Linked DNA regions of Homo sapiens: region 1 is linked to region 2. Evidence: fine-mapped expression QTL. Tissue or cell type: whole blood. Region 2 holds a variant in brackets; the other region holds the start of a gene. All regions are shown on one strand. Distances are from middle to middle.

Region 1 (2,648 bases), 56 kb after region 2:
CTAGCCCTGTTCATCATTCTCTAGGCCCTTCAGTGAGGCCTACAGTGTTCACCTGGCCCAGGGGATCCTAGGATCTTGGAAGGAGAGGAAGCCCCTGGGTTATGTTCAGGAAAAGTGCTGTGTTGGATCTCGCTCTTTTTTTTCTTTGAGATGGAATCTCGCTCTGTCGCCCAGGCTGGAGTGCAGTGGCACGATCTCAGCTCACTGCAACCTCTGCCTCCCGGGTTCAAGTGATTCTCCTGCCTCAGCCTCCTGAGTAGCTGGGATTACACCATGGCCAGCTAATTTTTGTATTTTTAGTAGAGATGGGGTTTCACCATGTTGGTCAGGCTTGTCTTGAACTCCTGACCTCGTGATCCGCCTACCTCAGCCTCCCAAAGTGCTGGGATTACAGGCGTGAGCCACCGTGCCTGGCCTTGGATCTCTTTTTATCTTGCACCTTCAGATGTAGAGGGACGACAGCCACTGTGTGTGTATGTGTATGTGTGTGTGTGTGTGTGTGTGTGCGCGTGTGATGTTTATTCACTCATTTATTTATTCATTCATTCATTCCACAAATATCTACCCAGACCCTCTTGGCACTGCACCAGGTGCTAGGGGTAGAACAGTAACCTGGAAAGATGAGGCAAATGGTTGATTTCAGATTCAAGGCTTTGGACTCCAGCTGTTCTGTCATCCAGCTCAGGCAGGCCCTCATAATCGCTTCAATCAGGGAGAACACAGGAGAGTTTCTCTGGGGTGTCGGCAGCTCAGAGGAGACCCAAATACTAGGAGACCCCTTTTTCCCATGCTTCCCAGTCCTCCAGTTTATTTCCCCCAGGAGGGAGGGAGACAAGACCCAGGAGTCAGGGTTGTAGTGGCTGGGCGGCCCAGGCAAGTCTGCTTGTTACAGGCACTTGTGCCAGGACAGGATTTCTTCCAGTTTCATATTCACTGAACTGCCTTTTCCTGGGTTTCTGGGGGTGGTGCTGGAGTGGGCTCCAGGGTTGGAACGGGCCCTTGGGTGGCGGCAGCTCTCTGCTGCCCCCACCTGAGTCCTGCCCGGAGGTGGCAGGTGACGGGTTAGGCCCAGCCCCCTCTGGGCCTAGCCACTCAGGTACGAGGCCTTTCCCCCCCATCCCCCGGGGCTGGGATCTCTTTTATAAAAGGCCATTCCTGAGAGCTCTCCTCACCAAGAAGCAGCTTCTCCGCTCCTTCTAGGATCTCCGCCTGGTTCGGCCCGCCTGCCTCCACTCCTGCCTCTACCATGTCCATCAGGGTGACCCAGAAGTCCTACAAGGTGTCCACCTCTGGCCCCCGGGCCTTCAGCAGCCGCTCCTACACGAGTGGGCCCGGTTCCCGCATCAGCTCCTCGAGCTTCTCCCGAGTGGGCAGCAGCAACTTTCGCGGTGGCCTGGGCGGCGGCTATGGTGGGGCCAGCGGCATGGGAGGCATCACCGCAGTTACGGTCAACCAGAGCCTGCTGAGCCCCCTTGTCCTGGAGGTGGACCCCAACATCCAGGCCGTGCGCACCCAGGAGAAGGAGCAGATCAAGACCCTCAACAACAAGTTTGCCTCCTTCATAGACAAGGTGAGGGTCCCCCCTGCGTGGCTGACTGTGCCCGCAGCCCCTTTCTCCTGGTAGTCCCGGTCCCTATGCACATCTCCAGCCCCCAGCTGGCGTCCTGCTGGGCCTCACCCGCCCTGGCGACACTCTCCCTTCCATCCTCCGACTCACCCCTCCCGTGCACCTTGGTTTGGGCTGGGTGAGGGTGGGGAGAGGGTCTGGACAGCCGGGATGAATCCTGGGGCTTCCTTCTTCCCTTTTAAACTGGAGGGTCTTGGAAGAGAGAGACAACTTAAGGGTACAGCCTAGTTCCCACCACCCCTCTCTACAAATCCCGTTCTTCCTCAGGTCATTCTGTCCCCAAATTATAAAAAATAATAGCGGTTATTGTTCTCACCCCAACCCGAGTTCTGACCGTCTTTTAAGCTATCGCCCTGCGGCAGTCCCAGCTGTTCGGGGACTACCCTCCTCCAGGTTCGCCTCTTCGCCAGCACTACCCCAAGGGCTCCCCAGTGGTGCCTTTGTGATTTTTTTTCTTTCTTTTCTTTTTTTTACATAGGGGTTTGGTGTGATTCTAGCATTCTAGGAGAAGGAAGTGGGTGTCTCGGTTCAAACGGGCAAATATTGATTGAGGCCTTTGGCGCCCGGAGGCCTGAGTGCGGGGGTCACAGAATGAGTCATACCCCGGCCCCTGCGCCGGCAGCGTGGGCGGGGCCGAGGGCGGGGTGAGGGGCTGCGGGCAGCAGTCTCGGGACGCTCTCCTCCACCTGGCGGAGCTCGGCGTCGGGGGCGGTGTGGGTGGGGTGGGGTGGGGTGGGGTGGGCTGGGGTGGGGTGGAGGAGGCGCCAGGGCCTGGCCTCGGAAAGCCCATGCAGGATTCAAAGTCTGCGGGCGTGGGACGCCCCGCCCGGGGTTTACGTCCTGTTAAGTTTATGGCTTCAGATAACGCGGTCGCCCACCAACGCCCCTCGCCCATTCAGCCCGTGTCCCTTTCTCGCGTCCTGTCCCTGCTCCGCCCCAGCGGCCTGGCTCCACTTTCACACAGCAGGAGCCAGGCCGGGTTTTGCAGCCCTGGGACTCCGCTGCCTGAGGGGCCCCGGGC
Region 2 (2,844 bases):
CATAGAAAGTGCTCAGTAAATACTGGTTACTGGCCAGGCGCGGTGGCTCATGCCTGTAATCCCAGCACTTTGGGAGGCCAAGGTGGGTGGATCACCTGAGGTCAGGAGTTTGAGACTAGCTTGGCCAACATGGTGAAACCCCATCTCTACTAAAAATACAAAAATTAGCCAGGCATGGTGGTGCACGCCTGTAATCCCAGCTACTTGGGAGGCTGAAGCAGGAGAATCACTTGAACCTGGGAGGCAGAGGTTGCAGTGAGCTGAGTTCGTGCCATTGCACTCTAGCCTGGGTGACAAGAGTGAAACTCTGTCCCCCCCAAAAAAAACCAAATACTGGTTATTATGGTAATTGCCATTGTTATATGACCAATCCAGGATGACACCAGGATGAAGAAAACAGGGTAGGCTGGGTGCGGTGGCTCACGCCTGGAATCCCAGGACTTTCAGAGGCTGAGGTGGGCAGATCACCTGAGGTCAGTAGTTTGAGACCAGCCTGGCCAACATGGTGAACCCCCCATCTCTACTAAACATACAAAAATGGTTGGGTGTGGTGGCGCATGCCTGTAGTCCCAGCTACTTGGGAGGCTGAGGCAGGGGAATCACTTGAACCCAGCAGGTGGAGGTTGCAGTGAGCTGAGATCACGCCATTGCACTCCAGCCTTGGCAACAAGAGTGAAACTGTCTCAAAACAAAACAAAACAAACAAACAAAAAACAATAACACAAACCAAAGAAACAAAAAAATAGGGTACCTGTCTTCAAGGCATTTCCAGTCTCATGGGGAAGATGACATAAATAGCTAAGTATGCCACATGATGAAATGAAACAAAGGCAGTTGGAAAATATAGCACGGTTCTGAAGCTCAAGAGAGGCTAGGGCTGGAGGTAAATATTGAGATACCAGCTCAGAGGTAGCAACAGAGTCAGGGAATAAAAATAAGATTGTCCATGGCCAGGCACGGTGGCTCACACTTGTAGTCCCAGCACTTTGGGAGGCTGAGGTGGGTGGATCACTTGAGGTCAAGAGTCCAAGACCAGCCTGGCCAACATGGTGAATCCCCATCTCTACTAAAAATACAGAAAATTAGCTGCCTGGTGGTGGGTACCTGTAATGCCAGCTGCTTGGGAGGCTGAGGTAGAAGAATCGCTTGAACCCCAAAGGTGGAGGTTGCAGTGAGCCAAGATTGTGCCACTGCACTCCAGCCTGGG[C/T]GACAGAGTTAGACTCCATCTCCAAAAAAAAAAAAAAAAGGCCCAAGAAGAGAAAAAGCTGAGGACAGCCTGCAAGGCCTGTGTTTAAAGGGCAGATGGATGAAGTGCAGCAGGCAGAGGTGAGAGGACTGCGGAGCGCAGTGGTGTGCAGGTCAAGAGCAGAAGGACATCAGGGTCAAGTGCTGCAGAGGCTGAAAAAGATGAGGAGAGAGGGGAGGCTGCTGGACTTAGACTGGTGGCCTGTGAGGGCCTTCAGTGGCAGGGTGCAGGGGGGATGAGGAGGAGCTTTGGGGCAAGGTACGTTGGCAGTCGACCCTTTCCCAATGCCCTGTGGGCCCCAAGGAGACCTAAGGGTACATACAAGGGCAAACCTGAATGTGCAGGTCGGGGGCTGAGAGATGCTGCTCATACACCCAGGACCCATCCTCGCTGCTGATCCCCAAGATATGCCAGGCTAGGTCCCTCATCTCCTTCAGTCTTGGCCCAATGTCACTTCCTGCCCAGGCTGCCCTACTTAAAACTGCAATCTGCTGGCCAGGCGTGGTGGCTCACGCCTATAATCCCAGCACTTTGGGAGGCTGAGGCAGGTGGATCACCTGAGGTTGGGATTTTGACACCAGCCTGATCAACATGGAGAAACCCCCATCTCTACTAAAAATACAAAATTAGCCTGGCATGGTGGCGCATGCCTGTAATCCCAGCTACTCGGGAGGCTGAGACATGAGAATCTCTTGAACCCGGGAGGCGGAGGTTGCAGTGAGCTGAGATTGAGCCATCGCACTCCAGCCTGGGCAACAAGAATGAAACTCCATCTCAAAAGAAAAACAAAAACAAAAAATCCTGCAATCTGCTGCCCCCTTCCTATGGTAGGCTGAATAATGGTCCCCTCCCATCCCAAGATGTCCATATCCTAACCGCCCCTCTTTGCCTGTGAGTTTCCTTACACAGCAACAGGGACCTTGCCATGTAAATCAAAGATCTTAAGTTGGGGAGATTATGCTCATTGTCTGGGTAAATCTAATGTCATCAAAGGATCCTTATAAGAAGGAGGCAGAAGGGTCAGAGAAAGGAGATGTGAGGATAATGGAAGCAGAAGTCAGGAGAGAGGGAAGTGGGGAGAGATTTGAAGATGCTGGCTTTAAAGATGGCAGATGGGACCAAGTCAAGGAATGCAGGTGACCTCTAGAAGCTGGAAAAGTCAAGGAAACCAGTTCCACCTACAACCTGTAGAAGGAAAATAGCTCTGCAGAAGCCCTGATAGGGCTTCTGATATACCAAACGGTAAGATAACAAACTGTAAGATAACGTGTACATTGTTTTTGTTGTTGTTGTTGTTGTTGTTGTTGTTTTTTGAGTCTCGCTCTGTCGCCCAGGCTGGGGTGCAGTGGTGCAATCTCCGCTCACTGCAAGCTCCGCCTCCCAGGTTCACTCCATTCTCCTGCCTCAGCCTCCTGAGTAGCTGGGACTACAGGCGCCCGCCACCACGCCCGGCTAATTTTTTTGTATTTTTAGTAGAGATGGGGTTTCACTGTGTTAGACAGGATGGTCTCGATCTCCTGACCTTGTGATCCTCCCACCTCAGCCTCCCAAAGTGCTGGGATTACAGGCGTGAGCCACCATGCCGATAACATGTATAT

The links. PIP is the estimated chance that this variant, and not a neighbour inherited with it, causes the effect.
Region 1: KRT8 starts here. The variant in region 2 is fine-mapped to the expression of KRT8 in whole blood (TOPMed, PIP above 0.99).

The regions. Positions count from the first base shown.
Region 1 is chr12:52,903,580-52,906,227 of GRCh38, reverse strand. It overlaps KRT8 (keratin 8), which reads left to right and starts at 1,152. Exons shown (of 8, transcript NM_002273.4): 1 at 1,152-1,570. The coding sequence starts at 1,247. RefSeq lists a silencer at 2,212-2,381.
Region 2 is chr12:52,959,368-52,962,211 of GRCh38, reverse strand. No RefSeq gene overlaps it. Among named protein-coding and RNA genes, the nearest start is that of KRT18, 12 kb to the right of the region's middle. The variant C/T (reference allele first, on the strand shown) is at 1,208.